2 separate regions of the Homo sapiens genome follow, and region 1 is linked to region 2. The links come from fine-mapping of genetic effects on gene expression. A gene starts in region 2. The other region holds a variant in brackets. All regions are shown on one strand. Distances are between the middles of the regions. Region 1 has its middle 39 kb from the start of LINC03018. Region 2 holds the start of LINC03018 (long intergenic non-protein coding RNA 3018).

Region 1 (15,743 bases), 39 kb before region 2:
TGCAGAACAGACCTTCAACAAAATTTAACATCCCTTCATACTAAAAACTCTCAATAAACTAGGTATTGATGGAACGTATTTCAAAATAATAAGAGCTATTTATGACAAACCCACAGCCAGTATCATACTGAATGGGCCAAAACTTAAAGCATTCCCTTTGAAAACCAGCACAAGCCCTCTCTCACCACTCCTATTTAACAGAATATTGGAAGTTCTGGCAAGAGCAATCAGGCAAGAGAAAGAAATAAAGGGTATTCAGTTATGAAAAGAGGAAATGAAATTGTCTCTGTTTGCAGATGACATGATTGTATATTTAGAAAACACCATCGTCTCAGCCCGAAATCTCCTTAAGCTGATAAGCAGCTTCAGCAAAATCTCAGGATACAAAATCAATGTGCAAAAATCACAAGCATTGCTATACACCAATAATAGACAGAGAGTCAAATCATGAGTGAACTCCCATTCACAATTGCTACAAAGAGAATAAAATACCTAGGGATACAACTTACAAGTGATGTGAAGGACCTCTTCAAGGAGAACTACAAACCACTGTTCAAGGAAATAGGAGATGACACAAACAAATGGAAAATCATTCCTTGCTCATGGATACGAAGAATCAACACCATGAAAATGGCCATACTGCCCAAAGTAATTTATAGATTTAATGCTATTCCCATCAAGCTACCAGTGACTTTCTTCACAGAACTGGAAAAAACTACTTTAAATTTCATATGGAACCAAAAAACAGCCCATATAACCAAGACAATCCTAAGCAAAAAGAACAAAGCTGGAGGCATCACGCTACCTGGCTTCAAAACGATACTACAAGGCTACAGTAACAAAAACAGCATGGTACTGGTATCAAAACAGATATAGAGACCAATGGAATAGAACAGAGGCCTCAGAAATAACACCACACATCTACAACCATCTGATCTTTGACAAACCTGACAAAAACAAGCAATGGGGAAAGGATTCCCTATTTAATAAATGGTGTTGGGAAAACTGGCTAGCCATATGCAGAAAACAGAAACTGGATCCCTTCCTTACACCTTGTACAAAACTTAACTACTGATGGATTAAAGACTTAAACATAAGGCCTAAAACCATAAAAACCCTAGAAGAAAACCTAGGCAATACCATTCAGGACATAGGCATGGGCAAATATTTCATGACTAAACCACCAAAAGCAATTACAACAACAGCCAAAATTTACAAATAGGATCTAATCGAACTACAGAGCTTCTGCACAGCAAAAGAAATGATCATCACAGTGAACAGGCAACCTACAGAATGGGAGAAAATTTTTGTAATCTATCCATCTGACAAAAGTTTAATATCCAGAATCTACAAGGAACTTAAACAAATTTACAAGAAAAAAAAAACCCTATCAAAAAGTGGGCAAAGAATATGAACAGACACTTCTCAAAAGAAGATATTTATGCAGCCAACAAACATATGAAAAAAAGCTCATCATCACTGGTCATTAGAGAAATACAAATCAAAACCACAATGAGATACCATCTCATGCCAATTAGTTTGGCAATCAATAAAAAGTCAGGAAACAACAGATGCTGGAGAGGATATGGAGAAACAGGAACACTTTTACACTGTTGGTGGGAGTGTAAATTAGTTCAATCATTGTGGAAGACAGTGTGGCAATTCCTCAAGGATCTAGAATTAGAAATGCCATTTGACACAGCAATCCCATTACTGGGTATATACCCAAAGGATTAGAGATCATTTTACTATAAAGACATATGCACACGTGTGATTACTATAACACTATTTACAATGGCAAAGACTTGGATCCAACCCAAATGCCCATCAATGATAGACTGGGTAAAGAAAATGTGGCACATATACACATGGAATACTATACAGCAATAAAAAAGGATGAGTTCCTGTCCTTTGCAGGGACATGGATGAAGCTGGAAACCATCATTCTCAGCAAACTAACACAAGAACAGGAAACCAAACACCACATGTTCTCACTCATAAGTGAGAGCTGAACAATGAGAACACATGGACACGAAGAGGGGGCACCACACACTGGGGTCTGTCAGGGGGTGAGGGGCTGGGGGAGTGATAGCATTCGGAGAAATATCTAATGTAGATGACGGGTTGATGGGTGCAGCAAACCACCATGGCACATGTATACCTATGTAACAGATCTGCATGTTCTGCACATGTACCCCAGAACTTAAAGTATAATAAAAAGTTAAATTAAATTAAAAATATATATATAATATTCATAAGATCATCATATCAGCTATGGTTATCAGGTCCATAACTCACTGTGTAGGCATCAGTCAATGTAACCATTCATCTTTTTAAAACAGGGGAATTGTTAATTAAGACTTCTGTCCTTGAACATAACTCTATGTCTGTGTCCCTAGTGCACACCAATATCCAAGTTCTCCTGAACATACATCCCATTTATATTTTCTACTCTTCCTGGCATCTCGGTGTGGCCACATAACTGAAATCTGGCTAAAGGAAAGGGAGTAGATGTCATCTGTGCCATTTCTAGGAAAGGCCCTTAAAAATCTCCTTAAAGCAATTCTCCCTCTCTCTGTCTATCCGCTAACAGGGAGGAGAGGGTTCTGAGGACACAGAGGAAGGGGAAACCTGGAGGTGGAAAGAGCTTAGGCCCAGAATGGTAGTGCCCTGCAAAGCCCTGGACCCTGCTATTAGCTACCTCAGGCTGACGGGCCAGGCACACAACAAGGCATTGAAATTCTGAGGTTGTTCACACCCGTTAGGCTGTTCCAAAGAATATACCCCATTTTAGCAAATGTCTTCTACATTGTATTTATTTACTTGCCCAGCAGTGGTAGGAAGAACAATTCCATTCTTACATCCGTAGCATATAGCACAGAGCTTGGTACAGAGTAGATTCTCATTACATGTTTATAAATGAATGAATGAGTGAACATGGAGAGAGAAAAGAAAAACTTCCAAATACAATGAAATATGCATTTCCATCTGGTATCTTTAAAACACAAATCTTTACTGCATGTTTTGTGTCCACATTTAAACGGGGTTGTTGATAATAACACTGGATAGTTTTTAGCTTTTTAAAAAATTAATAAAAATTGCATGTATTTATGGTATGCAACATCTGGTATCTTTAAAACACAAATCTTTACCACATGTTTTGTGTCCACAGTTAAAGGGGGTTGTTGATAATAACACTGAATAGTTTTTGGCTTTTTAAAAAATTAATAAAAATTGCATATATTTATGGTATCAACATAGTGTTTTGAAATAAGTAAAAATATATAACTTTGTTTTCCAAAATCACCTTCCTCCTCTCTAATTGTAACCATGAGGGAAGGAAACATTTGTCTTCTGTGCAGAGGTTCTTTGTACACAAATAAACACTGTTCTTCGTCTGCCATCAGGGATCATGTCAAGGGACCACTCTCATCACCTCTGCTTCACTGTCAATGTGAAACACTTGTGAGGCTGGAAGCTGCCAAACCTGAGGGAGCCTGCATTCCTGTGCCCCCACAGTGAGTCTTCACTGTGACTTCCCAAGCAAAGCACTGGGGGCCTCTCCAATTTCACTTCCTGTGGGCTTGCTCTTGCAGGCCAGAAGGAAGACGAGCACTGCCTGGCAGGGAGTGCAGTGCCATGAGGTACAGCTGGGCTATCCTCTCTGTCGCTGGGCAAGGACACCAGCTGCCAGTTCACAGAGAGCAACTCCCACTGTTTCTCATCGTGGGGATTTCTCTGGACCCTTTCCTCAGATCTTTTGTTAAGCCAGCTGTTAAACAACACCACCAAAAATAAATAAATGAAAAAATCAAATTGACTTTGGAAAACATTATCTACTGTGAATTACCTTTGAGTTAGCCTCATTCAGCTCCTTTTACTGCGCTCAGTCTGGGGAGACATGAGGAGTACATGGAGGTTCTCAGGGCTGCCATGAGAACCTCAGCTTTCCCCTTCACTAGATTCATGGCTGTGACCCAGAACTTATCCTTTCTGAGTCTCATTTTTCTTATCAAAAAAAAAAAAAAATGAGAACAGTAAACAAAGCGTTAGGATTGTGTTGGAAGGGGAATATGAGAAAAAGCTTGGCAGAGAGACAATACCTGTTATCACACTGAGAACCATGTGTATTGGTGAGACACGAGGGAGCACAGGCAGTTGGATTTCATTTCCTGCCAGGAGGAAAGGAGCCAAGACAGCTCACCCAGGGTCACTCAGGGCCTGAGTCTGTTAGCCAATGAAGCCAGAGCTGGAGCAATTCCTGCCTCATAGTCCAGTGCCATTTCTATGCTGTCTTAAGGATTCCCACTGCCCAAACCATGTTTATTCCTTTGGGTGACACATTTCTTTCCCAGCGCTAAGTGAATGGCACCCCATAAAAGTATTACTCCACTGTCCTCAGTAGCACCTCTACATCCAGCCTATCTCTATCGTAGTCCCACTGTGCCAAGTCCTTGGCCAAGGGCACAGAGGCAGCAGGGGACCATAGTGCTTCCTCCTCTTCTTAAAAGAACTTAAAAAAATGGCAATATCCAAAGGAGGGGTCCTAAACACCTCACAAGAGTTCAAGTTGCTCCCTGTGTGCTGGTCTTTCTCATGCTATGAAATCTAAAGGAGCAATTAAGTGCTTAGTTGCCTCAAAAGCTGGGCCTGGGCATCTCAGCCCTACCATGCTCCCAGTGTGAGGGGCCCTGCTTGAGGTGCTCCTGAAATGTCACAGGCCTTCCCTTTATGAAGTCTCTCATCCTGAGACTCCTGCAAATTGGTGATTCCTTCAATTCTGGAGTTGAATCTATCACATAGTGTTGCTGACCACAGCAGAGCAACTGCTTGAACATTATCTAAACTCAAGTGACAGGGGTCTTTTGAAAAGTATGCACCAGTACCCTGGTGGGCAGCCCTCCAAAGCCAACCTGAAAACAAGAACACAGCAAGGCCCATCCCTCTCTGTGGCTCCAGCAAAATGGGTGTCCCAAAGATGCCGTGTGCTCCATCCCCTATCTACAAAGCCACGCAGAGTATTTCTTAGAAGCGCGGGGTATTGACCTTATGTTCTGCAAATCACTGCACGGTCTCCCATGCAATCGTGTAGTCAGCTACTTAGTTTTGTAAATCTGCAGCAGAGAGACTTGGGTTGTCCTATCGCAAAATGAATCCTGTTGCAAAGTCCAGGAAGAAGATACTAGAGACTAGGGTTGACAAAATTCAGTCCAGTTATTTCATTCCATATTAAAAGTATCAAATAAAAAGTGAGACAATTTTATTAATTTTCACATGTGATACTTAGCTTATCTTCTCATTAAAGAAATACATCTTAATTAAAAGCTGTTTAAGATGATATGCTGTGCTGATTTACTCCACCAAAACAAATAAAACAAATATTTACTAACCGTTTGTTTAATGTGTCAGGAGCCTTATTCTGTACTTTACATGTTATTTCATTTTATCATCATAAATAAATCATGATATCACAAATACTGTTCTTTAGAGAATACTATGTGTCAGGCCCTGTACTGACGTCTCTACATGTATTATTAGTTCATTTTATTGTCATAACTCAGTAAAACTCTTACTACAGAATGAGCATCCCTAATCTCAAAATCCAAAATTTGAAACTTTCTGAGCACTGACATGACATGCGTAAAATTCCACACCTAATATCATGTGATGGGTCAACATACACAAACTTTGTTTCATGCACAAAATTATTTAAAGTGTTATATAAAATTGCATTCAGGCTATGTTTATAAGACGTATATGAAACATAAATCAATTTTGTGTTTAAACTTGGGTCTCTTCCCCAAGAGATCTTGTTATGTATATTCAAATATTCCAAAATTAAAAAAATTCTGAAACCTGAGGCACTGATGGTCCCAAGCATTTTGGATAAGGAATACTCAACCTGTATTGTTATCCTCATTTGTCAAATGAGGAACTTTAGGCACAGAGAAGTTCAGTAACTTGCCCAAGTTCACATAGTCGACTCAGAGCTGGGATTTTCACACAGGAGCCTGGCTCCCAGGTATATAAGCTCCAACTGCAGCTGCCTACACTAAGAAGTTCCCAGCACAGCCTCTGGCAAAGGTAGGGGCCTTCAGGACTTCCCACAGAGGGACTCACTTCTTCCTTTGCCCTCTCATTCTGTGCCACGTGCCTGAAAACCACAGACTACATTTCATAAAAGTTGCCTGAGTCAATGAAGGTGTGGGTAGGTATAATTATTCTAATTTTGTAAGAAAAATTAGCTCTGAAAAGCTAAGTCAGTCAGGGCAGAACCACTCAAGATTCAATCTCGGGCCACGGTGCTTCTAACATCTGTGATGTTTAACCTGCCTCACAACAAATACTCCTGTCTGCAACATGTGCGCATACCTTTGCTATAGAATTGTTCTAGCATATATTATTATTGATGTATTTGCAAGGCATTCTCTTCAATTCACCTGGGAGCATTCTTCAGGATGGGGGTCAAGGGTGGGAGGTGAGGGTCATTTTGTCTTTCTGGGCAACCCCAGCACCCCACTGTTTCTGACAAATACAAGGCACCCAGGAATGGTTTGTTGAATATATGACAAATGAGAGAATAAAGGATAACTTTATAATAAAGCCTTTATTTGCTTCTCTAAAACAACCTTTTCTTTGTTTTTACAGAAGGCGATGAGATCATTTTT[A/G]TTCTATCACTATAGCTTTTGCTTGAGAAAAACATTAACAAGTATCTCCTTCCAGAAATCTTGCAGATCAATTTGTTTAGTCATGAGGGCTCAGCAGCCATCTGTTACTCAGCTGCAGGAGTTGTTTATTCATACTTTTGCCCATTCATCTGTTTTGTGTTTCCTTTTGTCCATATCTCACTTAAGATAAACAAAATCCTGTCAGTGTGTGAAGAAAGCCAAGCCTCCGAATCTGCCTGTGCTGAGAACAAGGGTATTCTTTGTCAGAAGGACGAAAGAGCCGAGGGTGGAGGGAAGACTACACACTTCTTATGCTTGAAAAGCAGAAGGTCATCGTACTTTACTAATTATGGAGTCCTCCTAATCATGTCTGATTTTAAAGTGCCCGTTGGGTTACTTAGGAGTATAAGATGCAGCCATTCCAGTCCTGCGAACATTTCCAACACTATTACTGCTTTTCACGTTATTTGTAAAACTTCTCATTTTTTCACCTAGGCAAAAGATTTTTCTTCTCTAATTCAGAGAACAAATTCATAGACATAGACAGGTTTTCTAATGAAAGAGATACCATTCTCCTATCAACTCAGAAACTGTGGGAAAGACATCATTAGTCACTCTTCACCATCTTCTTCTAAGGAGAATTTCAAATCAGTTCCCTGCCACTAAATTTCATAAGTGACAAAATTTCCCATCCAAATTGGCTTAATCATAATGAAATTCCATGTATCTGAAAACTCCAGAGTTAGGACAGAATTCAGAAAAGTCTTGATCAGAATTTACATGTTTTCTTCTGCCTTTCACTCCTGCTGGCCTCTGTATGGGATTTCATTCTCATGGGTCTCATACCATGGTGAGATGGAGGTAGGGGCTTCAGAGATGTGTTTCCAGCTACACTACAGGGAGAAAGGATTACCCCTTTCACTTCCAGAAGCTGCAGCAAATATTTCTTTCTTGCTCACTGACTTTGATGGTGACACAGGCCCATTCTCCAACCCTCCATTTAGGCCAGAGGAAACCAAGAATCTAATTGACGAGGCCCTTACAACTTTTGGACCTTTTGGACCTGGGGTATGGGACCAGAGAGGTGAGTCCACTCTACTGGAACCACAAGTGGATCCCCAGAAGAAAACGTGGAGCTATTAACTCAAGAAGGGCAGATAGTGAACAGATAGTTAACTGACTGAAGGTGCCTGCATCCTGTGGAAACTTATTCAGCCTTTGAGTCACAGCCAAATTTTACCAGAGGTACAAAGAGGAGCTGGTACCATTCCTTCTGAAACTATTCCAAACAATAGAAGAAGAGGGACTTCTCCCTAACTCATTTGATGAGGCCAGCATCATCCTGATACCAAAACCCGGCAGAGACACAACAAAAAAAGAAAATCTCAGGCCAATATCCCTGATGAACATCAATGTGAAAATCCTCAATAAAATACTGGCAAACAGAATTCAGCAGCACATCAAAAAGCTTATCCACCACGATCAAGTTGGCTTTATTCCTGGGATGCAAGGCTGGTCCAACATATGCAAATCAAGAAATGTAATCCATCGCATAAACAGAACCAATGACGAAAACCATATGATTATCTCAATAGATGCAGAAAAGGCCTTTGATAAAATTCAACATCCCTTTATGCTAAAAACTCTCAATAAAGTAGTTATTGATGGAAAGTATCTCAAAATGATAAGAGCAATTTATGACAAACCCATAGCCAATATCATACTAAATGGGCAAAAGCTGGAAGCATTCCCTTTGAAAACTGGCACAAGAAAAGGCTGCCCTCTCTCACCACACCTATTCAACATAGTATTGGAAGTTCTAGCAAGGGCAATCAGGCAAGAGAAAGAAATAAAGGGTATTCGAATAAGAAGAGAGGAAGTCAAACTGTCTCTATTTGCAGACAACATGATTGTGTGTTTAGAAAACCCCAGCATTTCAGGCCAAAATCTCCTTAAGCTGATAAGCAATTTCAGGGTACAAAATCAGTCTCAGGATACAAAATCAATACACAAAAATCACAAGCATTCTTATACTCCAACAGTAGACATGCAGAGAGCCAAATCATGAGTGAACTCCCATTCACAATTGCTACAAAGAGAATAAAATACCTAGGAATCCAACTTACAAGGGACATGAAGGACTTCTTCAAGGAGAACTGCAAACCACTACTCAAGGAAATAAGAGAGGACACAAACAGATAGAAAAACATTCCATGCTCATGGATAGGAAGAATCAATATCATGAAAATGGCCATGCTGCCCAAAGTAACTTAAAGATGCAATGCTATTCACATCAAGCTACCAGTGACTTTCTTCGCAGAAATATAAAAAACTGCTTTAAATTTCATATGGAACCAAAAAAGAGGCCGCATAGCCAAGACAATCCCAAGCAAAAAGAACACAGCTGGAAGTATCATGCTACCTAACTTCAAACTACAAGGCTACAGTAACCAAAATAGCAAGGTACTGGTACCAAAACATATATATAAACCAATGGAATAGAACAGAGGCCTCAGAAATAACACACACATCTACAACCATCTGATCTTTGACAAACCTGACAAAAACAAGCAATGGGAAAAGAATTCCTTATTTAATAAATGGTGCTGAGAAAACTGGCTAGCCATATGCAGAAAACAGAAACTGGATGCCTTCCTTACACCTTATACAAAAATTAACTCGAGATGGATTAAAGACTTAAATGTAAAACCCAAAACCATAAAAACCCTAGAAGAAAACCTAGGCAATACCATTCGGGACATAGGAATGGGCAAATACTTCATGACTAAAACACCAAAAGCAATGGCAACAAAAGCCAAGATTGACACATGGGATCTAACCTAACTAAAGAGCTTCTGCACAGCAAAATAAACTATCATCAGTGTGAACAGGCAACCTACAGAATGGGAGAAAATTTTTGCAAGCTACCCATCTGACAAAGGTCTAATATCCAGAATCTACAAGAAACTTAAAGAAATTTACAAGAAAACAAACAACCCCATTAAAAAGTGGGTGAAAGATATGAACAGACACTTCTCAAAAGAAGACATTTATGCGGCCAACAAACATATGAAAAAAAGCTCGTCATCACTGGTCATTAGAGAAATGTAAATCAAAGCCACAATGACATACTATCTCGCACCAGTTAGAATGGTGATCATTAAAAAGTCAGGAAACAATAGATGTTGGTGAAGCTATAGAGAAATAGGAACACTTTTACACTGTTGGTGGCATGTAAATTAGTTCAACCATTGTGGAAGAGTGTGTGGCAATTCTTCAAGGACCTAGAATCAGAAATACCATTTGACCCAGCAATCCCATTACTGGCTATATACTCAAAGGATTATAAATCGTTCTACTATAAAGACACATGCACACATGTGTTTGTTGCAACACTTTTTACAATAACAAAGATTTGGAACCAGCCCAAATGGCCAAGAATGATAGACTGGATAAAGAAAATGTGACACATATACACCATGTAATACTATGCAGCCATAAAAAAAAGAATGAGTTCATGTCCTTTGTAGGGTCATGGGTGAAGCTGGAAGCCATCATTCTCAGCAAACTAACACAGGAACAGAAAACCAAACACCGCATGCTCTCACTCACAAGTGGCAGTCTAACAATGAGAACACATGGACGTGGGGGGGAACATCGCACACCAGGGCCTTTCAGCGGGTGGGCAATAAGGGGAGGGAGAGCATTAGGACAAATACCTAATTTATGTGGGACTTAAAACTAGATGTCGGGTTGATGTGTGCAGCAAACCACCATGGCACATGTATACCAATGTAATAAACCTGCACATTCTGCAAATGTATTCCTGAACTTAAAGTAAATTTTAAAAAATCAAAGAAAGTTACACACACACACACAAAATTTTGAGTGATAACATTATAATCACAATAATATATATGACCTGATTTTATTAAAATAAATATATTTCCACATTAAATTATGTCTGTTAATACAAAATAATTGGAGGAATATAACAGAGTGCCACCCTGCACCATCCATTTACTTCTTTGTTCTCCTTCTTCAGAAAACAAACAGAAAACTGAAACGAAGAAAAAATGCTATATTTGTTTTCCAAGGCACATTGCTACCAGTGCTAAAAGCACATTCTCTGTCTCCCTGCTTGACATGTACAGCCACTTGTCCAAGTTCTGGCTAATGCTGTGAGTAGCAGCATGGCGAACTGTTAAGAAGTCTTTCCAAAATGGAAGTGGCGGACTCTTCCTCTTCCTTCTTCTCTTTCTATTGGCTGGAATGAAGAGGAGCCGGCTAGACTAAAGGTGCCATGGATAAACATGTCCAGAGTCCCTAAAAATTGTGAAGTTATCTTCAGTCCTCTATGACCAGCTCCAGATTCCTTTTATGTGCTAGTGAAATATATTTCTGTCTCACTTAAGCTAGTATAATTTTGAAAGTCTTGTAGATGTTATCATTGCTTAGGACAGTATTATACACAGTGATACAGATCACATACTGAATTTTTACAGTAGTTTCCCTAAGGAGCAATAATGGAAGAACAGATTGGGAGTGAAAGTTAATATTGTAAGTAAAAACAAAGTTGAAAATTGTTTCATCTATTCCCACATTGTGGAATTATATATTTATATTTGTGTAATATATAAATAATATAACATAATTTATAATACAACGTGGATTTATAAATAATGGACAAATTGGACTTCGTTTTAAAATGATAAGTTCAGAGAACTGTATTTTGGTATAAAAGTTTGATCAAGGTTACTGCATCTCGTGTCCAGTGAATAATTTGAGTCTTAGTCATTAAGCAGGATTCCTTGTATATAATAGTTGGACACAGGCATGAAGGGCAAGGTCCCTGCCTGCAAGAATTGCAAGTGTCTGATGAAGATAGATAGGAAAGCAAGCACTTGATAAATAGTGCGAAATATGCTACTTTAGAAGCAGTCCCAGAGTTTCATGACTGCACTGCCTCTAGTCTTAGTTAGTTAAGAGGCTTCCTGAGGATATAATGTTTCTCAGGGGATTGAGGGGAGGTACAGGAAGGGTTAAAGAGGAAAAATAAAAGAGAGCAAAGGAAAGTAAGTGCAGATATTGTCCCTTTAGAATAAAATGTGTACATCTTTGATGGATTAACAATGCAATGAAAATAGAAAAATTTGATTTCACCTAAATTGTCCATATCCTCAACCCTCCTCTAAATGATAGACCTGCCTTGGCCCCAGAATAGCAAATTTCTGTTCCAGAACAGAGAGTAAAACTGTGAAGCTAGTATAGAAATATTGTTTCCCAAAATAAGTTCCTAAATTTGAATTTCTTTTCAGATTGGGAAACTTATAGTGGTATGGAATATAATTTTGGCAGTCACGCATAAAAGAATCACATTTTCTTGCTCTGTACTGACACCTCAGCTCTCTCTCTGATTTAATGCTGCTTTATACCTCAGAGGTTCATGCAGCCTCAAAATGAACAGTGTTGTGACTTTTGTTAGGATGATCTCTTTGGAACAGAGACCTAAGGAGGTCCTATGGTTGAGAAAGGCTGTCAATTCCCTTAAAGTGAAAAAACGGAACTCTATTAGTTATTATTAAGAAACCCACTCTCTAATAAAGTGTTGGTGCTGTAACATACACAGCCTTGCAACAGATAAGATTCCAGAGCAGAGTCACATGTAGAAAATAGAACAATGCCATATGGATCACAACCACTTCCTTCCTGAATTCCAAATGCTGCAGGGGTTGGAAAACTCAGAAGCCTACAGGGGTGGACAGGTAGTGCAGATGACTGACAGGTGGGAATAAGAGAAACATCAACCAGTCCTGTGACTGTCTATTCAGCTAAAGAAGAAGCAATTTACTCAGCTTCAAGAGATACAACCACACAGCAATGCAGCCCAGTTTCCAGAGCTTGTTTTCAAAGACAAGCTAAATGAGATTTTAACGTGGATTCTCCTCTTTTTTATACTAACAGTTATAGGCCCAATCAGGCCATATGCCGCCACATGCAATCTCTGCAAGGAACAGTGGCAACATCAACTTACACAGGTCGAAGATCCCTCATTTGAAATGCTTGAGACCAGAGATGTTTTGGATTTGAGATTTTTTAAGATTTTTGAATATTTGCATAAACATAATGGATATCTTGGGGATTGAACCCAAGTCTAAACACAAAATGTATTTATGTTTAATATATACCTTCTACTCATACCCTAATTTTGTACAATATTTTCAATAATTCTGTGACTGAAGTAAAGCTTGTGTGCATTGAACCATCAGCAAGGAAAGGTGTCACTGTGTGACCCATGTGGACAATCTGTGGTTGTTTGGCATCACCATCATTCCTGGCTGAATTTAAATGCTGCCAATAAGCAATTATTTTCTCACACTTATTCACACATAAGTACATCATAGTAAAAAAATGATATGCCATTCATACAGTGAAAAAATAACATGTTGAGGGTAACTAACCAGCTCAGTAGCGTCACCAGAATATCTGTGTCAGCTGTTCCGCAACAGCAACAACAGACACCACCAGGCTAGATGGCTAAATGGCTTTTAAAAACATTTCCTCCAGGGTCATCTGCCTCATTGACAACATGTATTTTTCTTGAAGTCTCTCTGATTTTATAAACGAGCATGATTTCTTGCTCTGCTATGAATGGACATTGCTCTAATTCTTCAATAAGCCCCATCACACTTTTTTCCCATGTCATCTACGGCCACTTTTTCTGCAGTGTTAACAACATCATCTTCCTTGTCTACTTGTGGCATCATAGTGAAGCTCAAAAAGTTTCAAATTTTGGGTTAAGGATTTTTCAATTAGGGATGCTCGATCAGTAGCTCCTCAGCACTCTAAGAGAAACTGGCTGGATAATGTAAAAGAACAAGAGGTTTCTCTCAATATCTACTTTAAAATAAGAGGGTCAATTTCACTTGAGAAGATCAATAGAGACCTATTCTACACGAATGACCAAAAAAAAAAAAGACCCTTCAGTACAAACCACCCCCTCAACCATCCACACCCAGAATATTGAACCAGACCATTCCAGCTTCCGGTAAGTTCTCTGCTATTTTACAAATTCCAACAGAGTGCTGGATAGAGTTCCTATTTTAATATTAACCTGAGAAGGGTAGATGGGTCAGAGATGAATAAAGCCGGGCGCGATGGCTGATGCCTGTAATCCCAGCAGTTTGGGAGGCCAAGGCGGGCAGATCACCTGAGGTCAGGAGTTCGAGACCAGCCGGGCCAACATGGTGAAACCCCGTCTCTACTAAAAATATAAAAAAATTAGCTGGGCATGGTGGCAGGTGCCTGTAATCCCAGCTACTTGGGAGGCTGAGGCAGGAAAATCGCTTGTACCCGGGAAGCAGAGGTTGCAGTGAGCCGAGACGGTGCCATTGCACTCCAGCCAGGACAACAGGAGTGAAACTCCATCTCAAAAAAAAAAAAAGAATTTCATTCTTCAGATTTTGAGACCTAGGAAAGCTCCACTGCTTTGTTCTTATGGAGCTAACTTGTTAAGATACTGTCTTAAAGTCATTATCCTTTATTAAACCGTACTTTCTGTTATCTTTAGATATTCTAGAATACTTATTATTTTATCTAAAAATAGACAGGTGGAGATTCATCTTTCACAATAGCTTCCTAGTCAATCTCTTAGCAGGTAGCAGAGGGAATCAAATCAAGAGGTTAATCAATTTGTACGCTATTGTGGTGATTTTCCAGTATCTTCACAAAGACCATATTAGGGATATTGATTTCTTGAGAGGGATAGGAAAGAAAAAAGTCAAACTGTAGCCTTCCTGGCTGAATTTCCAGGATCTATGTTAGTTCACTAATTCAGCAAATATTTTGAGGGTAGTAGTTCCTATATTTTCTAGCATTCCAGATTCAAAAAGAGAAACAAGTCAGGATTCTAACAAGGCAGATAGTCACCTATCTTTTTTGGTGAGTCTGCCAAGTGGACTGTTGCAGTCTTGAGTAATCTTCTTCATCCAATTGTTTAAAATTGTAAATAAATGATTTACATGATAAAATTTCATAGATTCTCTGAAGCTTCACATCTAGACAGAAATGCCCAAAACTTTAGGGGCCAATGTATTTAGCTGGGGCTCTGGAGCAGCTCGTGTATCTGAAGCTATGTCTCTCACACCACAGATGGCAAGGTTCAGAGGGACAGAGATTCATTTTTTTGTGTGTGCCTGGAAGAGTTCCAGATCCTTTGGCCACAAGTCAGCATGGTCCCTACCCCCAGGAAGCCCCAAGCATGGTGGCACCTTAATACGACCCAGGCTGAAAGACAGGGTCAGGAAGGTCCTTAAACACCCATTTCCTAGTACACTTCCTGCTATTTTGTGAATTCCAAAAGAGTGCTGGATAGAGTTCCCATTTTCATATTTACATGAGAGGATAGATGGGTGAGATATTAATAAACAATTCTGGTTTTTATTAAATAGGGAATCCTTTCCCCATCAATAAATGGTGCTGGGAAAACTGGCTAGCCACATGTAGAAAGCTGAAACTGGATCCCTTCCTTATACTTTATACAAAAATTAACTCAAGATGGATTAAAGACTTAAATGTTAGACCTAAAACCATAAAAACCCTAGAAGAAAACTTAGGCAATACCATTCAGGACATAGGCATGGGGAAGGATTTCACGACTAAAACACCAAAAGCAATGGCAACAAAAGCCAAAATTGACAAATGGGATCTAATTAAACTAAAGAGCTTCTGCACAGCAAAAGAAACCACCATCAGAGTGAACAGGCAACCTACAGAATGGGAGAAAATGTTTACAATCTACTCATCTGACAAAGGGCTAATATCCAGAATTTACAAAGAACTTAAACAAATTTACAAGAAAAAATCAAACAACCCCATCAAAAAGTGGGCAAAGGATATAAACAGACACTTCTCAAAAGAAGACATTTATGCAGCCAACAGACACATGAAAAAATGCTCATCATCACTGGCCATCAGAGAAATGCAAATCAAAACCACAATGAGATACCATCTCACACCAGTTAGAATGGTGATCATTAAAAAGTCAGGAAACAACAGGTGCTGGAGAGGATGTGG
Region 2 (15,743 bases):
TTGAGGCTAAGCAAATTTGCACTGGTGGAATTGAGACATTCCTCGTCCACTTTGCCTGGGGGATGTTGGCCAAAGTGCTTCATCAGGGCAGCGGTAGTGGGGTCCATGCTTGCCCATGTGTGCCAGCAGTGACAGCAGCACAGTAGGGCACATGCATTGGTGGGGGTGGGTGGTGGCAGGGTGTGCACACAACCATGCTGGCAGGTGCAGGGCTGCAGTGGCAAAGTCTGTGCATACGCACACCAGTGGCAACAGCGAAGTGGGTTCTGCACATGTTCATGCACCAGGAAAGTGGTGGATGGGGTGCTGTGAATGAGTAATCACCAGCAAACTGGTAGAAGGAGGCTGTGTGTGTGTGTGTTTGTGTGTGTGTGTGTGTGTGTCAGTGAGGGCCTCTCTCCTGAAGCTCTCCAATGGTTAGGTAGGGTCTGCCAGTGAAGGAACGATAGCAGTGGCCCCTGGGAAGCACCCTGTTTGGCCATCCAAGGCTATGCTGTAAGGTGGCGCAGCCAGGCAGGGACCCCAGGAGAGGCCAGCAGACAGTGGGCTGCTGAGGTCAGACTGGCTTCATGCTATGGAAAAGACAACCCTGCTCTTTCAAGGCCCAACAGTCAACAAAAGCCAAAGCCACCTAGAGAAGTGTGAGTGTGGCAAGACTTGGGGATGGGAGCACCTGGTCTTGCCCCACTGTAGCCATTCTCATGCCAAACCCCCTGGCCTCCAGACAGGCTGGAGTCTTGTCCCTGCCACCTCTCCAAGCAACTCGCTCTGTCAGCTCAAATGTCTGTGGGGGTTATGGGGTCTCCTGCAGCTAGGATTGTGAAGGTCTATGGTGAGAGTGAGCCATATCTCTCGTATTTAACTCATCCCTTCTCCTGAAGTTGTTGGGGGCCAGGAACAAATCCTGGTGTTTGGCAAACCCATGCAGAGTTCCCAGATTCCTCCCTCTTCAGCCAAGGGTCTGCATATGCTCTTTGTCCCCTCTCAATTCATCTGTCCAAAGATCTGCTCGGAGTGTGCTAGTCTTCTTGATGGTCTGTTTTTTCAGTGGGAGATGCTTTTCCTGGCTGCATCTCATTGGCCAGCTTGGCTCCCAGCAATGAGATTTTTATTTCCATTTATTTTTAAATTCAGCATTGAAATCAAGGTCATATAAATTTCACAATTTCCTTCATAATAAATTCATGTTTGTTTTTACATGTATATTCCTCCAAAGAGCAAAAAAGCAAACTTCCTCATGCTCTTGACACCTGCTGAGCTGTGCCATGCCTCCCCCCACTGGCCGTTTTGCCTTCTCTCATATCCTCTTAAGCTTGCGTTTTCTCCCATGGAGAAGCAGAGATCCAGGTAGCAGATCTTCCAGTGTAGGAAGCTTTTAAAGAGCCATGCTCATGTTTATCAAGAATTTTCATTTAAGAATAACAAAAATTGTTACAGTAATGTAGAATGTTAACCTGAAAAATTACCTGACCTCAATCTGTGTTTGCTAGACTCACATTATTATAAAAATATGATTAGTTTATAGCTCTATAAAAATAATTCATTATACTCACCCAGTTTTCTGAGAATTTTAGGAGTCTGCTCATAAGTTAGACAGAGATTCATCTACTTAACTTGAATACTTAGAGATAATTATCTTTTAAAAGTTTAGCAAAGCAGAATAAAACCCAGTTTCAAAACATAAAAGTAGAAATAGTTGAACTTCCCTAAAGCATTATTAAGTATTGTTGGGGATAGATGGGAAGTATGAATCAATTTGAAAGCTTTTAATATTTAGACCAGATTATGGGGTCATTTTTAACCAACTAGAGGTTTAAAAAAGCACAAAATTTATTTATATAAAATAAAAAGTATGCAGTGCTTTGTTCAAAAGAATCTACATGTTGATTCATCACCATAGTCATTATATATGTAGATATATATGTAAAACATCTCCCTTTGAGAAAGCAGCACGTGAAACATAAATACAAACTTGTGAAATATTAAGAAAACTCTAGCTGCTGAGATATTATTTGCTATGGTAGCAATGAGAAACAAGTTATTTCTGAGGTAAAAATCTATGATACGTATGAAATTGAATTGATTCCTTTCATAATATACTGTATTTTGAATCAGAGTGATGGTTTATGTATATGTCTTTCATTTTACATGAAAGACAGTATAGATAGGAGACATAATGAGAATGGTGTTAATGGAATAAAGGAAAAGACAGGAAAGGTAAAGTGTGAGCCCTCATGTAGGACAGAGATTTTCAAACTTTGGCATGTAGTGAAATCAACAAATAGCTTGTTAGAACCCACATTGCCAGGCACCCCCACTCCAGCCACAAAGATTTTACTTCATTGGGTTTACTGATGCAACTCAACAGTTCGAACTCTTAATAGGTTCCCAGGTGGCACTGACGCTGTTGGTTTAGGGTTCACACTTTGAGAGACATTGATGTAGGAGGGTTTGAAATATTTCAGCAAAGTTGATACCAGGCTATCATGAAGCTTGGTGAAACAGATTCCTCTGCTTCTGTGGCTATAAAAATGCTCATTTAGGATTTTTCTAAATGAAAATATATAATTCCTAATAAACTAAAACTACCTTCACATTGTTTCTTTTTCAAACATGGTCTGATTCACATTGCTGTTTGCTATTTATTTTTACTCAAATAAGCCTTCCTACAGAACTCTGTCACTGCAAATAGTCTCAATTCGCCATTAGCTAACATTCCATCTGAGATGAATCAGAGCTAGAAGAATGATTATTTCACAATAAATGCCTTTGGGTCCAATTTTTATGTAACTTTATATACTTATACAGCAAATCCCCTCCTCATGTGTCAATGGTCTGAGTAGACCTCATGTCCAATCCAGAATTAATCCCAATTCTGGATTATTTTAGGGTAGCTCTATGCATTAATTGGCATAAACTTCCTTTCTCCTAAGCCAATCACTGTGGTAGGAAGAATGGAGTTACTGCTCTCTCTGAACTACATTACTGCTATGCAATAACATAGGCTTTGAAAGAATATTGGTGTACTGTCTCAGGCTGGCTTTCTCAGATGCTTGCCCAAGACAAAGATTTGTATGCACATGATTTATTAATTATCTCAACAAGACAGGAAAGAGAAAGAAGCTAGCCTTGTATAACTGCAGGCAACGATCCCAGGATTGCAGTGTCAGCATGAACCATGGGGGAAGCTCTGGAAGGAAAATGAGCTCTCAGGGTAATCCTGACCTGAGATAAGACAGCTGGGCTTTCCTGCTTCTCTGTCATCCTTCAGCCTGAGGCTCAGGCTGCCCCCAAAGGATGGAGGCTGAGCTCAGTCCCATAGAAACAGTAAGATCTAAGGAGGTATGTGCAGGACAACAGCGGTATTCACTACAGGGTGACAACCAGACTCTGCCACACCAAGATTAAGAGATTTTATTTTATCTAATATGTCAGCACATCCTGCCAAACATGTGCAAAGAGGGAAAAATGGGACAGAGAGAATGGATAGTTCCTGAATTTGAAAAATGCTGGACTAAATAAAGTTAAATCGAAGACATTCTGCAGGTCTTTTATGAGCCTTTACTATATTAATGGCTGTTGTGAGTCAAACCACAAAATTGTTTTTATAAGACTGTCTCTCGGGTGTATCTTCTGTGAGACAGACTTTGGAAAAGCTGCTGTGAGTAAGGGGTTGTCAAAGGTTTGTAGAGCAGCATAATCAGATCAGGATTTATGGCGTGAAGTAAAAAGGGATGGAGAAAAGGAGCACTAAGACAACAAGATCACTTTGCTTCTGCAAAAGAACAAATGAAATATAATTAAATCATGAAATAAGCAAGTTGTATAGAAAACAAAGGAGGAAATGAACTAGACTATCTAATAGTTAGAATTGTCATAACTATGAAGGCTGTGAGGCACTAAAGAAGTTGGAGATCCCAAGGTCATTGGCTCAAGTGACTCCACAGCTAGTGAGGCCTTTAATGATGATGGAGAATTGATGAGGAGGACAATTCGGGGAGGCAAGATTAAAGTTTGAAAACTACATGGAGATGTGTGGTAGACAACTAACACTAAAGGTGTGGATTTTGGATTTACCAGCTTTGGGCTGTGACTTAGTCGGCTTGGGCTGCCATAACCAAACACCACAGACTAAATGGCTTAAACAACATAAATTTATTTTCTTAAATTTCTGGAGGCTGGAAGTCCAAGATCAAGGTGTTAGCATCATCAGTTCCTGGTGAGACCCACCTCCTTGGCTTGCAAACAATCACCTGCTCACTTGTCCTCACATGACTTTTTTTGTGGAAAAAGACTCTTCCTCTTCTTGTAAGGACACTAGTCCTATCATGTTAAGACCCTCATCAATCACTTTTAACATGATCGATTACTCTTTCAGTATCTTATTTAACATTAATTTCTTCACTATCTCCAAATACAGTCACATTGAGAGAATGGCTTCAAAATATAATCTTTTGGGAGATAGGAGAAACAATTCAGGTCTTAACTGAAAATAAATTCAGTGCTAGTTGGAGCCTAAAGAACTAGGAAGTTGACTAGACTGAGAATTGACTGAGAATGGGACTCAGGGGGCCTCCAACCTTTGTAAGACAAGGGGGATAAAGGAGAGCCAGACCTATCAACTCTCAGAGCTAGCAGACTTGAGAAAACCATGTTCACTGCTCTGTACTTCTGTTGCTTCACCTGTAAAAAGGAGCTAATGATTGTTTTTGTTTATGGAGCTTTTATGAAAATAATATATGAGTTAGGGCCCAGTTGGGAGACAGAACACATGCAATGTTTACAACCACAAAGTGTAATATAAGGAATTATTAACAGAAGATTTGCTTATGAGGAGTTGCCTGTTGAGAATTAAAGAGAATACTAAGGAACCTAGGAGCCACAGATGGAAGGAGCAGGCATGATTTCCAGGGCTGACATGAAACACCCAGGGAAGATCTCCTCATGGCCATCGTAGCTGAACTCCAGATGGTGGAGAATGCATGGCCGTGACTCACTGATGGCTCAGAAATCACTCAGGTGTCTCACAGTTGGTAATTGCTGGAAGTCTCTCCTCTGGAGTGCTGGAGAGACTTTCCACAGAGGGATGTACATGCCTCAGAACCTGTTAGGTGCTGGGAGACGCTGTTGGCCATTGGGCACTGCTATTTCAGGCTGGCACAGAACTCTGCGTGGTTTGGTTTAGGATGGCTCTGAGCTAGCTGTCTGGGAAAAAGGTTGGGGCTGGCATACAATGAGTACTCGGTAAATGTTAGCTATTTGCTCCTACTATGGTTCCTACTGGTACTCCTGCTACTGTTGCAGAGTAGTTAAAAACTAGACCTTTACAGCCTGGCAAACCTGGGCTCACATCCCTTATATGCCATTTATTAGCTGCAGGATAGTGGACAAGTGACTTAATCACCTTAAGACTCAATTTCACCGTCTGTGAAATGGCATTAATAATAGTATTTATCTCCTGGGTTTGCTGAGAGCAGTAAATAGGAACATAAAGGTGAACTGCCTTATACAGTAGCAAGCAAGTAGTAATAGATTTCCTTAAGTGGCTTTTAAAATGTTTTAAATAAATATTAGTTCACTTTCTCTCCATAGAATGTTCTTGACATTAAGTATAAAACTGAAAGAAAGAATATGGTGAGACAGTAAATAAATAAGTTAAATGAATGAAAGCTAAGTGACTTTTAATATAGTGATTATTCCATCTTATCTGTGTGTTGAGTCTGAATCTACCAGATTAATTTTAACTGGATGCCTTCTTTATTGAGTGTACACCACAGAGAAGAATTCTAATTCAATTCAGAAGTTCTGAGACAGTAAATTCTCCAAGTGGCAGGTCAACAGCAAATGTATGGATCATTCTGCCCTTTCAAACTCTCACATCAATACTAGTACGTAAGACTCTGCAGTTCCATGTAGAATTGAAATTACCAAATCATGCAGAATAAACTAACAGGCATCTTCTGCATGAGTCAATTAAGACCTTAAATGAGAACATAGTATCTTCTTTCTAGCCTCAGTGATTACATTTTTAATTACCACATATTTTCAGGCACGTCATGGAATTTGACGACTGATAGATTTGGTAAATTCTTCCTGGCTGCTATGGCTGGGAATTAAATTCCAGTTCACATAATTGTGTTTGTTGTTGTTGGTCCATTATGGATATCTACTACAACTGATAAACTCTCTAATCTCAGCTCCACTTGGCACAATGTGGACAAGTCCAAAAAAGAGAGACTTGTTATTGTCAAAAGCAATGAGTTTAAGTGAAACCTGTGACTAGTCACAAAGACCATATCCTTTGAGAGAATAGTCAGAGACTTTCAACAGCAATGTTATATTAGTCTAGCTCAATTACCATTCTCTAGCTTAGTGACAGAAATAATAAATTTCAGAATCTCAAGATATTACTACCCCAGGACAGTAGTTCCTTGAATTCCTTATTCACTGTGCTTTGATTTCATTTTGTGTAGCTAGTGCTTATAAATAAGTGATTTCAATATGTGAGATTTCATCTGACCTATCCAAATATCTGGGGAAAAAAAATAAAAAGAAGTCCGTAAGATTCTGTTTGTTTCATAATTGCTGTGGTCTCCTCTTTGATATTTCAAGCAGATTATTTGCAAACAAGTAGAAATCTCCATGCTAAATAGTCATCCAAACAAGGTTTAAAGTCACTGGCAGGAACTCCATTGCAAAACAGTTCCTAAAAATAAAAAAAAAAAAAGCCCAGATAGAATAAAATAAGAAATTTTCACCATTATATATTGGTAGCATTAGGAAACATGGCAGAAAAATAATTTTTTAAAATTTTCTTGTAAGAACAATGTTAATATTTGGTATTAGATGTTGCGTTGTTCACTAAGAATCTAATATAAAATAAACCATATATGATCAATTATAGATGTTTAGGTTATAAATGCACATATATTTATCATCCATAATTGATTCATGTATTACTATAATATTCCAGCATCTGCTAAATTTAGGCTTATTATTTCACCTTCTTTTTTTTAACAGCTTTGGAAATAACGTTTATGTTTCCTATGTGCAACGTATACTGGTGTTTTCTTTTTTAAAAAAACTATTTCCACAGGCTTTTGGGGAAGAGGTGGTATTTGATTGTGTGAGTAAGTTCTTTAGTGGTGATTACTGAGATTTTGGTGCACCCATCACCCAAGTAGGGTACACTGTACCTAATGTGTAGTCTTTTATCCCTCACCTGCCTCCCACCCTTTCCCCCACTCCCCAAAATCCATTGTATCATTCATATGCCTTTGCATCCTCATAGCTTAGCTCCCACTTATGAGTGAAAACATACGGCGTTTGGTTTTCCATTCCTGATTACTTTCACTTTCATTATATACTGTATCTCAATGGTTTATCATCTATATAAATGGACTTTAAAATGTGCAGCTTTATTCTACAGGTTGAACATCTCTCATTTGAAAATCTGAAATCCTAATTGCTCCAGAATCCATAGTATTTTGAGTGTGTACGTGATACTCAAAGGAAATGCTCACTGAAACAGGTCGGATTTTGGATTTTCAGATTAAGGATGTTTAACTGGTAAGTATAATGCAAATATTTCAAAATCTGAAAAAACATCTGAAATCTGAAACACTTCTGGTCCCAAGCATTTAGGATAAGGGATATTCAGGCTGTATCCTATTTTGACATAAACTAATATGTTTTTCTGGCATTTTAAAGATAGCAACACATCTTTCACCATCCTTCCATTGAAGAATGGATCAGTTTTTCATCCCCTTGAATCTAGGCTGAACTGTGACTGTTTTGTTGTATATATTACAGAGGAAATGATGCCACACCAGTTCAGGATTTACCCTTTAAAAGGATTGGCAGCTTTCAGCTCAGTCTCTTGGAGCCCTGAGCTGTCTTAGAAGAAGGCTGACTATTCCTATGGGAGAGACCACACAGAAACTAAAAATACTTGGAAGAGGAGAGGGGCTCAGTTGAGCCCAACCTTCCAGCCAACTCCAGCAGGGTGGCAAGTATGAGAGTGAGGATATCTTGGAGCCTCAGCAACCTGTGCTATCCAATAGCTATCAGCCACATGTGACTACTGAGCACTCAAAATGTGAGTAATTTAAATTGAGATATACTATAAGAGTAAAATAGATACTGGATTTCCTTTTTTTCTTTTCTTTCTTTCTTTCTTTCTTTCTTTCTTTTTTTTTTTTTTTTTTTTTTTTTTTTTTATTTCTGAAACGGAGTTTTGCTCTTGTTGCCCAGGCTGGAGTGCAATGGCACGATCTCAGCTCACTGCAACCTCTGCCTTCCAGGTTCAAGTGATTCTCCTGCCTCAGCCTCCCAAGTAGCTGGGATTACAGGCATGTGCCACCTAATCCCAAAATATCCCCGGCTAATTTTGTATTTTTTAGTAGAGACAGGGTTTCTCCATGTTGCTCAGGCTGGTCTTGAACTCTGGACCTCAACTGATCCTCCCGCCTCAGCATCCCAAAGTGCTGGGATTACAGGCATGAGCCACCATGCCTGGCCACATATTGGATTTCTAAAAATATGTTTAAAAATCTCATTAAGAATTTTATATTATGTTTAAATAATATTTTAGATATATTGTATTAAAATAGGCTATTAAAATAATTCCACTTAAAATTTTTATATTTGGTTATTAGAAAATTTAAAATTACTCTTTCTCTATGTATATATGTTTGCATAATTGGACAGCGCGGCTCTCAACCATCCCAACCACCAGCTGAAAACCCGGTGATTTCAGTCGGTATTACTTGAGCCATTCAGCTGAGCTGTTTCTGAATTCTTGACACACAGAATCTGTGAGATAAAATAAAACAGTATTGTTTTAAGCTATTAAGTTTTGGAGTAGTTTCTTACACAGAAATAGGTAACTGAATGACATACATAAAAATATTAAGTAATTCACAGAAATTATGCTCAACCTCTTAGAATTTAGAAGAAAGAAATGTGCTTGGCCCAAGCAACATTTTCACAGTCATGGTTAATAAATTATAATATAATGCCTGATTTTTTCCTAAATTAATTATTTGTAGCAAGTATGGAGTCTTAAATTTATTGATTTAAGATTTTGTCTTTGATAAAAAAACTCTTTCTTTAACTACTGAAGAGAACACATAGGAAAAGAAATAAACTGTAGAAAATTAAAACCAATATTTTAATTGGTTCTGTTCATTTTATCAGGGAACAGAAACAGGAGATCCCAGTGCTTCATTATTAGTTACATTGTTTGCATTAACATTTGCAATAATCAATTGAAATGTCAAAAATAATCTTTATCCAGGATTCTTAAATCAGAAAAATCCAGATTAACTATTAGGAATACTATTTTCTGGCTAGGGAATATTGAGTAAATAACATAGCTTCTATGAATCCATTTTCTTATCCACATAATAGAAATGACAACACATTAATTATCTATTGAATTATTGTGAGGATTAGGGGAGCTAACATATGTAAAGCACTTATTTCAGGGCCTGGCACAGGGTAAATGCTCTGAAAGTGAGAGATTTAATAATAATGCATAGGGTAATTACATATGAAAGACTGAAATAGTAGAGTTGCCCTGTCTCAAAAAAATTACATACTTGGTTATGGCATAATTATTGTAACCCTAGTTGTTGTGGAAATGTTATAAACTTGGCTACCTCTTACCTATCTCTTGATTACACAGGTGGAGCATCCTGCATGATTCTATAGCACTCAACAGGTGTCTGCCAAGCGGACAGACTACAGACCCCTCTGGCCGCATGATGCTGAGCTTCCCCTTGGACACATGAAGATTAAGTTAGTCAAGCATGGAGATTCCTCCCTCTCCTTCACAAACTCCAGATGTTTGGCATCTCCCCAATATCCTAAGACCTCCTGGACTGGGAACAAAATGAGCGTAGTGAAAGAGGAAGCAGCTTTAGAGAAAGCACCACAGGGAACAAACCAATAAAAAAGCAGGAAACTCAGCACAAGCCTGATTTATGTCACTGCACTTCTCTACTCTCAGCCCCATTCCCCCAAACTCCCAGCAAGCACACAAGCACACACAGGCACACACATGCACATGCGCACACACACATGCACATACACAACACACACACACACACATGCCTTCTGCCAGCAGCTCTCTTTCTCACTCTCACTTTTCTTTTCAAATGCTGGCATTTGAAAAAATCCCCTATTTTGTTTCACCCTCCTTTTCTGCCTCCCTAAAGAGCTTCCGAAGAGGAGTTTTGATGGTGCATCTGAGTGTTAATAGATTCGGGAGTGTGAAGCTGTTGCCTGAATCTCATTCCCTGAGAGTGCCTTTCTCTTTTTAATAGCTGAGAAAGAATTGATCAAGCCTCTGTTTTAGTCTCTGTTTCTAAACAGAAAGAAAGAAAGAAAAAGGAAGGAAGGAAACAAGGAAGGAAGGACATACAACGTAAAAACAAAAACATTTTTACGACGATCCCTTTTTCAACAGCTAGGGGCAATCCAGTGTGTTCAGTTGTGTTAGTTCTGTGTCTGTCAGGAGAAAAAGCCATGTAGAAGTGATGATTTAGTTTTCTTGGTGGGAACACAAGGGAAGCTAGTTGAAAGCAATGGTTGTGGGGTCTTGAATGGACAGGCAAGTCCGGTAGTCAGAAGAAGATTTTGATTAGAAACAGAGGAATTTCTTCCAGGAAAATACATTGTCTTCATGACAAACCAAAAATACACCAAATGTTCTGAAAACTGCCCTTTAAAAAGAAAGAACAGATTGTTCAATTGAAACACTTTCCTGAAGCCAATTGTTGCAGGCTGCCAGCCACCTTCAGTACCAGCCACCCCTCCGTCCTCCCCAGGGCCGGTATAAGGGGTGCATGAGAGACACGTGCATGCAGAAGACTCCACCATGATGCCTGGCTCCCATTGCACTGTCCCAGAGCGGCGTAGTGGCAGCTGGGGTTAGTGCTATCTGTCATGAAAGGGCATTCTACTCCGGTTGGCAGAGAACACTCACACACGGGGAAGCTGAGCCATCAGTGCAGGAGTTAATTCCCGTTTGCAATAATACTAAGGATGTCGCATTCATATATACTCAATGAGCACTAAAGGAATCATAGGAATATGCTCTCACAGGAGATAATGTAGCCACAGTAGATAAAGGAGGATGTCCTGGAAGAAGGGGAACCTTTTTTAAGCCAAGGGAGAAAACCACTGAAAAGTAAATCTTTGCATGTAGCTGTGCAGCTCTGCAGATCTAAAATCTGTGCTTTTTAAAAGTATACTCTGTGGAGTAGCAGTCCACATCAAAAGGTCACAGTTTAAAAGTTTTGTATTGTGCTTGGGTTATCCCTTAAGATGTTAGTTATATCATCACAAAAGAACAAGAGTAAACTGTAATTTACTATTTTTGGAGTATTTTTTTGTTGTTAGGCATTTGAAGGATGAGGTGCACAGTGCCCAAGAGTATGTCACAGCGGCAATTTCCACTTTATGCAGAATTAATACTCAATTACTTATCTGCTTACCTGGACCTTGAGTGAATAATAGATTCCTAATAAAGGGTTTTTGAGCAAATGGACAAATTGGATGCATTTATGTTATAGCAGCCACAACAGCAAAAGAAAATCAAACACTTACAAAACAGAAGTCAATCAAGTTTTAACTAGAGGAGACACCAAAGTATCATACAGTGGAGGAAAAATTCAAATGTTCTGCGCCAAGCTCCTATCATGCCAATTGTACATGTTTGTGCGTATGTAGGGTAGCTAGGGTTGGATGTGTAATCATCCCTAAAATTCATTTGGTGAAGAAAAATACATTTTATTTGAAATCATTGTCTATTTTTATTCCTGCCAATATTTTGTATAACATAGAAGTCTGCCCCAGAGTGTAAATAAATAATGAGGAAGGTCACAGATCTAAATATACTATCTTGGTTCAATAATAAAAAGAGAATTTTTTCCTCGTAAGATTATTTTTTTCTTTGTGAACTTTGTATTAATTTAGGATTTAGGCGAATAATACATTGAATAGCAACTTTTCATATTCCTATAAATTGTGATATGCAGCTTCATAATATATAGTCAATAACCGAGCATCACTCTGTAGGTGGGGGGAAATGCTTTTTACCATAACCACGGAAGATACATTATGTCTCTCTGAAACCACGGAAACTTTCTAGCTGCTGAAAGCTGTTGGCACGATGCAATGCACCTTAGCAATGGAAGCATCCCCTCTGCCCCCTCCTGCTGAGACCCAGCAAAGGCCATCTGCTAATTGTTCTTGTCTTTGGAGTTCCTCCTGTGACCTGCAAAGAAGGTTCTCCATCCATATATCAATCTCTCTCTAACCCACATTTTCTGATTTCTCTGGTGCAGCCAGAATGGTCCCAGGAGAGCTCTAACACACTACATATCTGATGCTTAAAAAAGACCTCTTCATTACATGGCTTCAATAATGGTGGGCTAAAGGGAGCCCAGGCACCCTGTCCCATGCTCAGGTGAGTTAGAGAATGCTCCTAGGAGGATACTCCACATGCTGCGTAAACCTGGGAAGCTCAGGGCTTAAGCCTCAGAACAGCTCTAGACATCCTGAGAAAGGCTGAGAAGACACAAGCCAAAACAAGCATGAAGTCATCTTCAAATTTTTTACTTCTAAAAGAGAAAGTATCTCTTTCTCTTTCTTTAAACAGGCTATTACAGTGCTGTACTATTTGTTTTTTTACCACACGCACACAAATATTGCCCATATCTAAATATACATCTTGCCCAAACACACAAGAAATGGAGCTAAAGTTTCTTTTTAGCAAATTACAGGCTCTAGCTATCTATGACTAAGTCCAGGGAGATCAGGTTGCTGCATCACGAGGCAGCTTTTTCCCTTTGCATGCCAGTGTGCTGGGTGGTATGTGCTGTGTGTACAAAAGGAGACTCTTTGATGCTACGAACACTGGTCTCTGTGCTCTGGCATCAATGTCTCTCTCCTGGCCTTGGGAGAACTCCATGCCATACGGTGTGCTGCTCCCCTGGGCTCTGAGCATAGGGCTATGGTTATGACAAGGGAAAATATTAACAAGCATTGCAAGGTGATGACAACGTTACAGAAGGCAGAGGGTTTTGAATGTGGTGGTGACAGATGGTTGTCTAAAAACCCCTGAAGGAATCAGAAAATATCCATAGACCCTTGGCTCCCTAAAGTCTTCCCTTGAGGGTCTTTGTGGAGACCTGTTTTTCTCACTCCTTCATTACCCATTTTTAATTTGACATAATTTCTGCCAATTTCCTTTCCTAGCACTGCATCGTGCAATACAGTAGCCATTAACCACACGTGGCTATTTCAATTTCAATTGAAATCAATTAAAAATAAATAAAATTTAACTTCAGCTCAACCACACTAACCATATTTCAACTGTTTAATAGCTAATGCTGCTACTAACAACAGTATGGACAATAGAGATTAACACTATTCTAGAATAAGACTCCCCATTTCCACAGCTTCAGTTATGACGCATGCTGGAATCACTGGGGACTCATGTCTTCTGGCATTCTTGATCTTCCATCTGTAGTCTCTGTCTTTCTTCATTTTCACACTTACCCTTCTCCTCACCCTATGTAGCTAGTCTAATCCATACACATTTTCTCAAGTTTTGAATTGTTATTATTGAAAACATTTTCTTTTCAAAACACTTCAGTGTTACCCAAGACCAAGTTTCTGAACAGTGATTCACAGGCTTTAGCTTTTACTTCAAAGACCACAATATTGATTACTCAAAAATCTAAGAGATGCTCTTAAGGCAAAAAAGTGATCATAATTCTTCAATATTTAATAATGGACTGGCTAGATTTAGATTCTGCAACATTAAATTATCTAAGGCCAATGTCCCTTTAATTTCCTTTGAGAAGTGATTAAAGCTACTAGAATGCTGCCATTCCAGGAAGGAGAAAATATATTCACTAATAATAGCTAATGTTTATTGAATGCAGAATCGATGTCAGGCATTGAGTAACCACTGAGTGCTCCACCAGATTGCCTCTTTTCAACCCACAGCGATCTTTTGATGTAGATGTTATTTCTATTTTACAACTCACCAAACTAATGCACAGAAAAATTATATAACATTCTCAAAATAACAGAGGAAAGTGGCAAAAACAAGATTTGAACCCACATCTTTCTCACTCGAGAGCCGAAGTCCTCAAGCTTGATGCAGTTTTCCCTCTTCAGTATGGTGTACTTTGATCTTCCTAGCTGTTTTACTTATTATCTCCTTTGCTTCTCCAAGAAGTCTTATGAAGTAGTCCAGGCCTCATATTAGTGCCTGATACACAGTATCTGATGAATAAAACAGTGTGTCAGTTTTCTTTTCCCAACTTGCAAATGACCAAACTGAAACTTAGAGAAGTTAAAGGTAGAGGGACGCAGAGACAATAAGATGTAGTGCTGAAAATTGCACCTGTATCTCCTGATTTCACTAGTGCTAAAGTCCTGCTTTCATTACTCTCAAACATGAATAAATAATAGATGTTATCTCAGGAATTTCCTCCTACTGTCAATAAGGATTTCTAGTTCCAGAAAAGATGGTAAGCTTGCACACGCTACTGGCTTCTTCCCCTGAACCCACCCTGGAAAAGCCGCAGAAGTGAGGAGGTTAAGTATTCTGAACATCACAGAACACTCATGAGAAACACTTGAGGAGGCACTGGAGCTGGCCCAGGACAAAACTACAAAAGCAAGAGATGCATGAGGTCTGGTCACCTCTGGGAATCCTCTACTCTCTCCATCTCTCTATACACACGCTGTGGATTAAAAGAGTCTCAGAGAATAGCATCATGGCGAAGAGGGGATGGGAGAGCTAGTGAGGTTTGTCTGGAGCAGAGCCTCCCCAGAGGGGGAAGGAAGAAAATGAGTATTTTTGGGGCTCTGATTGCAAGACCAGAGGCTCCAATGTCCTAAGGCACCAAAGCTAAACCTCCTATGGAAGAGAACAAGCTGCGACTTCAGAGCATTTTCCTTCTCCCAGACCTATATTGTGAGCCAGGAGTAACAAAGAATTCCAAGAGGAATAGAACTCAAAGGGAAATAAATGACAACATTTGAGAAGTGCTAGCACTGTAAAGGGCAAGAAAATAAACAACCTAGCAGGAGTTACACAATGAATATACCAGATATAATAGGAGTTTTAAGTAAACATAAATAAATGTCTTCAGGGATGTAAGAAAGGACACTAGAAACAAGAGGCAAGTACACAAAGTAACACGGCATTCAACTGGGGATATTAAGTGTGAAAATGTAACTGTTGAAGTAAATAATGCAAAAGATGCATTGAGCAGCAGAATGTACTGAAAAAAATAACATTTTACTGCCCTGGAAGGTACAGTTGAGGAACTCTCAGGGCAGGCAACAGGGAAGGATTAAGTGACTTAAAACATGAGGGAAACATCAGAAGACGGGAGGAGAGGAGTGGACACATTGATAGGTATCTAATGGGAACTTCAGAAGAAAAGCATTAACAAGTAGGGTTCAGGTATCTAAGAAATGTATACTTAAAAAGTCCCAGACTCGAACAGGATCAATAAGAAACATCAGCTACTAGACACATTAGAGTAATATTTAGAAAATCAGTGACATTGATAATTCTAAAAGTTTCTTGGGGGGAATAAGAGGTCACTTCAAAGGAACATCAGATTTCACAACTGCAACACTAACTGGAAGAAAACAAGGTTGTAAGAGTTTCAAAGGATTCAAGGCAAAGAACTAAGCTATTATCTAAA

Evidence for each region. PIP is the estimated chance that this variant, and not a neighbour inherited with it, causes the effect.
Region 1: its variant is fine-mapped to the expression of LINC03018 in tibial nerve (GTEx, PIP 0.97).

What each region holds. Positions count from the first base shown.
Region 1 is chr8:57,699,028-57,714,770 of GRCh38, forward strand. No RefSeq gene overlaps it. Among named protein-coding and RNA genes, the nearest start is that of LINC03018, 39 kb to the right of the region's middle. The variant A/G (reference allele first, on the strand shown) is at 6,669.
Region 2 is chr8:57,738,253-57,753,995 of GRCh38, forward strand. LINC03018 (long intergenic non-protein coding RNA 3018) reads left to right here and starts at 7,897. Exons shown (of 2, transcript NR_134276.1): 1 at 7,897-8,098; 2 at 9,689-11,945.